Regions from separate parts of the Homo sapiens genome. Here region 2 is linked to region 1. A link means that fine-mapping ties the variant in region 1 to the expression of a gene that starts in the linked region. Tissue or cell type: lung. Region 1 holds a variant in brackets; the other region holds the start of a gene. All regions are shown on one strand. Distances are from middle to middle.

Region 1 (2,754 bases):
TGAAACAATATAAAATGGTTTTATCCCCATAAGGGAATAAAAATATTACATGAAATTAAATGCTTTTTGGAAAGAATAAAACTATGTGAAATCGAGTTTGATCTGGGTGCAGTAGCTCACGCTTGTAATCCCAGCACTTTGGGAGGCTGAGGCGGGAGGATTGCTTGAGGCAAGCCTGGGCAACATAGTAAGACCTTATCTCTGCAAAAAAATTTAAAAGTATAAAAATTAGCTAGGTATGGTGGTATGTGCCTGTAGTCTCAGCTACTCAGGAGGCTGAGGGAGGAGGATCACTTGAGCCCAGGAGGTCAAGGCTGCAGTGAACTATGATCACACCACTGCACTTCAGCCTGGGTGACAGAGCAAGACCTGTCTCTAAAAAAATAAAATGAGGCTTGCCTTATGAAATCTAGGTTGCATCTTCCTTGAAGGCAAAATAGGCAGATGTGAGATAACCTATCTTGTTCCTTAACTGCTGGGAGAAGTAGCTGGGCTCCCAGAGACCCTTGGCTCGTTCAGACCCTGCCTACCTTGGGAGCTGGGAGTTGCAGGACAGGCAGGCAGGCCTGAGGCTGAAGCTCGGGGGTTAAGAGTGCCTCTGGCTGGGATATCTCTCATTGGTGGCTGCTCAGGGTTCAAACCCAGGCTCAGCCCCTTAGAAGCAAAACCCTATGCCTCAGCACCTCATCTTTAAGTTGGAGCCAATCACCCCCACCAGGTAGGAATGTTGTAAAGATTCAGTGAGAAACACCAGGCCCATAGGAAATCGTCAGTGAAGCGCAGCTAAACACTTACCCGAGGCTAAGCTCAGTGTGGCCTGGACCCCACCAGCAGTTGGCGCTGTGACCCTGCAGGTGGGGTAACAGTGCCTGCTGGTGGGTTTGCCACATCAGAGGGCGTTCCCCAGGGTCCCTCAGAGACTCCTGGCTTGTAGGTGGAGAGGGGCTCTCTAGAATCCAAGCCATGGCAGAGTCTTGGAACCCCTGCTGAAGCCTGACACCCCAGGGAAGGACATCATGCCATTTCTCTGCCAGTCACACTCGCCTCAAAGCAAAAGACGGCTCAGCTCCCTGGGGCCAAAGGCCCTCCACTCCTCCGCCCCAGCCACTCCAGGTCTCACTCTGACCTCCATCTCCAGGGAGGGAGAGACTAAGTTGATTAGGATATTTTCTGCCTCTGAGTAGATTTATTTTTTCATTTAACTATTGTGAGGGAGGCACCATGAAACTGCAAGTGCCTGCGGGGCAGCTTTCCACCCCGACCTATGTAGGCAAGGGGCGCTTAAAAACATTTTAAACTGGGCCAGGCGCGGTGGCTCAGGCCTGTAATCCCAGCACTCTGGGACGCCAAGGCGGGCGGATCATTTGAGCTCAGGAGTTGGAGACCAGCCTGGCCAACATGGTGAAACTCCGTCTTTAACTAAAAATACAAAACTTACCCGGGCGTGGTGCTACACGCCTGTAATCCCAGCTACTCGGGAGGCTGAGGCAGGAGAATCGCTTGCACCCAGGAGGCAGAGGTTGCAGTGAGCAGAGATCGTGCCACTGCACTCCAGCCTGAGCGACAGAACGAGACTCCATCTCAAAAAAATAAATAAATAAAATTTAAAAA[A/T]TTTTTTTAAAAAAAGCATTTTAAACTGGGCATGTGCAGAGGACGTTTACATTCACAGCGCTTCGAGTAGTTGACAGTGATGGGAGTGCTGTGTTTCTGTGGGTGCCACAGTTTCCATGCTATCGACTTTTATCTCCTTGACAACATTACGGGTTTTTCAACTACTTGCACTACTCTCTTCAAAATGTAGCCTTACTGAAGTCGCATTTGTTTAGTTCTTCCATCTCTGGAGGACAGTGGGGGTGGGCGGGGCGGGGGGCTGGACACACTGACCTCTGGCTGTGGGCCCGTGCCCGGTGGTGGGGTGCCGGGAAGGGGGGTGGCTGGAAAGTGGGGCTTGCGCTGGGTCAGCGCCCGGTGTCCGCCCACAGCTGTTCGACCGGGAGCTGTGCCTGCGGCAGCTGCGATACTCGGGCATGATGGAGACCGTGCACATCCGCAAGTCGGGCTTCCCCATCCGCTACACGTTCGAGGAGTTCTCGCAGAGGTTCGGCGTGTTGCTGCCCAACGCCATGCGGATGCAGGTCAGCGCCCCTCGGGGACGGTCACCTCTGGCCATCCGCGGCCTTCCCCTCGGCCTTGGCACCTCCAGCCCCCAGTACCGAGGGGGTCTCCCGCTGCCCTCCCCGGCCCCAGCCTTGCGATGAGCCCTGTCCTTCCTCCCTCTCTCCTCCTCCCACCCTACCCTCTCCCTCTCCCAGCGCCGCGGAAGTGAGGGGGCTTTCCCTGGGGTCTGGGAGAGCTGGCGGCCGCAGCGGTTCCTTCTGGAACATGTCTGTAGTTGTACAGCAGACACGTTCTCTCCTACCGCGTCAGGGAGCCGAGGTGTGGCTAGAAAGCTACTGGGGCCCGAGGTTCTTCCTGTCCTGTCTGGAACCCTCAGCCATCCTGAGGCTGGGCCTGGCCTGGGCCGAGTCCCACAGCACATGGAGGCCCCGGGCCCCGAGTTCCCTCCTCACCCCAACCCCTATTCGAGGTTCCCGTTGTGCCTGTGCCTGGGCGGGGGTGGGCGGCAGCCCCTGATGGGGGAGCCTGTGGGAGAAGGAGGGAGACACCACCCCCAGAGAGCCGCCGAGGGGTCTCTGCCCCACCTCCCACCGATACCCCCGTTTGGTCTTGGCAGCTGCAAGGCAAGCTCCGCCA
Region 2 (2,754 bases), 39 kb after region 1:
GCAAATAGCCTCCCTGCCCTTACAGATGACACCACCCTCCTGGCCTTCAAGAAGGGGGACCTGTTGGTCCTCACAAAGAAGCAGGGGCTGCTGGCCTCTGAGAACTGGACCCTCGGCCAGAACGACAGGACAGGCAAGACGGGGCTGGTGCCCATGGCCTGCCTCTACACCATCCCCACGGTCACTAAGCCCTCGGCACAGCTGCTGGTAACTGGCACGCTCCCCTGTCCTCAGCCTGGGTACCCGAGGTCAGGGTGGAGCAGTCCTGGGATGCCTAGTTGGGAGGCCTAGCTCAGGGCCTGCAGCCCACCTAGCAGAGGCCAGGAGGGCCACCCGGGCAGCCCCCACCATTCCTGCGGCAAGGTGTGTGTGCAGTGCCAGCCCAGCTCTTGGTACTTAGTAGGTCCTCAATAAATGGGTGTTCCCTCCCTCTTCCATCATGGGGGTGTCCGGGGGACAAACCCAATCTTTCTCTGCCTCATTTACACTCTGACCCAGGGGGACTCAAGTCTCTCCCTGCACAAGGGAACCACCCACCCCAGCCCCCAAGACCAGCCTCTCCGGAGGCAGGAATGGCAGGCATTGCAACATGTACATACTGAGTGCTGAGTATGTGCCCTGTGCCTGTGGTACGAGTCTGGGCATAATAGCAGCTCCACCCTCAGGGCAGACATTTGGGCAGATAATGACACATGGATGGCAACTGTGCAAAGTGCCACCAAGGAGAGGAACAAATAATAGGGTGGGGAACTTACCCTGTCTGGGAAGGCATCCCCGAGGGAGGGACATTTGTGCTGAGGCCTGAAGTTGGTGGCAGACTAGGCAGGCAGGGCTGGGGTGAGAGGTGGCCCCATGGAGAAGGGGAGCTGGGGAGCTGGGGGTCTGAGAAACCCAGAGTGCCGTGGCCCCCAGAACGGGTGATGTGGGTGCCACAGCCATTGGCACTCACCCTCCCAAGGGAAAGGAGACAGGCACCAAGAGGTAGAGTCATGGTCCTGGGTCACACGGCAGGTGACAGGGGTGTGGGTAAGCCCTGGCCTGTTCAGCCCTGGGCCTGACCCCTCCCAAGTCACTGAGGCTGCCAGGCCGGGAGGAGCCTGCAGGAAGGGCCTCATGGGCGGTGGCTCCTGGGCACCCACAGGCCTGTGCCCCCTTCAGAGCTTGCTTGCCATGTCACCAGAGAAGAGGAAGCTGGCGGCTCAGGAGGGGCAGTTCACAGAGCCACGTCCTGAGGAGCCACCCAAGGAAAAGCTGCACACCCTGGAGGAGTTCTCCTATGAGTTCTTCAGGTGCCCCCCAGCCCCGCTCCGCCTCATTGCACCCCCACCTCCCAGCCCCACCTCACCTCATTGCACCCCCTGCTCCCAGCCCCGCTCCACCTCATTGCACCCACTGAGAGCTGCAGAGAGGCCACGCCACCCATGTGGAGCCTGCCTGGCCTTCCCAGGCCAGGGGAGTCAGGAGGGGCTTGCGGCAGGGTGGGGTGCTCTGGCCCTCCCACAGCCACTCAGGGGTGTCAGAGGACAGAGAAGCGTGGGACAGAGAAGGCCACAGGGCAGGCCTCACACCAGCCTCTAACCTCACAGGGCTCCAGAGAAGGACATGGTGAGCATGGCCGTGCTGCCCCTGGCCCGTGCCCGTGGCCACCTGTGGGCCTATTCCTGCGAGCCGCTGCGACAGCCGCTGCTCAAGCGAGTCCACGCCAACGTCGACCTCTGGGACATCGCCTGCCAGATCTTTGTCGATATCCTTCCCCACCAGCCTGCCTGCACCTCGTCAATGCCAGGGCAGAGGCACCCAGCACATCCTGGCCCTACAGCTGTGCTCTAGGGCAGGAGAGCCCAGGAGATCTGAGAAACCTGGAGTGGCGGGACAGAGCCCACACATGGCTCACCGCAGGGCCGGGGTCGGGGTCAGCGTCTATCCCCAGTCTGTGTCAGCGTGGGGCTGCCCCAGCACTGTGCTCCTTGACAGCCACACCCATCCTCCGGTACATGGGCGACTACCCTTCTCGGCAGGCCTGGCCCACCCTGGAGCTCACCGACCAGATCTTCACACTGGCCCTGCAGCACCCGGCCCTCCAGGACGAGGTCTACTGCCAGATCCTGAAGCAGCTGACGCACAACTCCAACAGGTCTGCTGGGGCGGCGGCCAGCCCACGCGGGCACCCTCAGTCCTCATCCCGGCCCCTGAGGCCAGACCGAGGCTCAGAGAGGACACCGCAGCTGGTGGCGGCAGAACCCCTGCCTGGGCTCCTGCCTCAGCAGTGGGAAGGGTTGGGCCCTTGGTCTGCTCTGCTGATGTCCTAGGGGTGGTCAGAGCAGGAGAGGATGGCCCTGCCCACTCCCACCCTCTGTGTGTGACCTGGCAGGCCATGACCTCTCTGAGCTTCAGTGTCGTCTTCCACAAAATGGGTGCAATGCCCACCCGCCCCCATCTTGAGGGTGTGAAAGCCCGTGGCATCGGGCAGCCTGGCACAGCTGGCATGGTGCAGCCTGGCAGGTGCCCTCCCCCTCGGGCCCTCTAGACCCCAGGCAGCTCTCACATCCGTCCCTGCTCCCCAAGGTGCCTGCCTGGCCAGGGCCCCCTGAGGGGCCTTTCCCGGCTGACAAGTGCTACCCTTCAGGCACAGCGAAGAGCGGGGCTGGCAGCTGCTGTGGCTGTGCACGGGCCTCTTCCCGCCCAGCAAGGGGCTGCTGCCCCATGCCCAGAAGTTTATAGACACTCGGAGGGGGAAGCTGCTGGCCCCCGACT

What was found. PIP is the estimated chance that this variant, and not a neighbour inherited with it, causes the effect.
Region 2: MYO7B-AS1 starts here. The variant in region 1 is fine-mapped to the expression of MYO7B-AS1 in lung (TOPMed, PIP above 0.99).

What each region holds. Positions count from the first base shown.
Region 1 is chr2:127,590,812-127,593,565 of GRCh38, forward strand. MYO7B (myosin VIIB) reads left to right here. Exons shown (of 48, transcript NM_001393586.1): 17 at 1,983-2,135; 18 at 2,735-2,754. Among named protein-coding and RNA genes, the nearest start is that of MYO7B-AS1, 39 kb to the right of the region's middle. The variant A/T (reference allele first, on the strand shown) is at 1,612.
Region 2 is chr2:127,629,620-127,632,373 of GRCh38, forward strand. MYO7B-AS1 (MYO7B antisense RNA 1) reads right to left here and starts at 1,165. Exons shown (of 3, transcript XR_923314.3): 1 at 756-1,165. It overlaps MYO7B (myosin VIIB), which reads left to right. Exons shown (of 48, transcript NM_001393586.1): 35 at 26-207; 36 at 1,159-1,289; 37 at 1,587-1,744; 38 at 1,981-2,134; 39 at 2,627-2,754.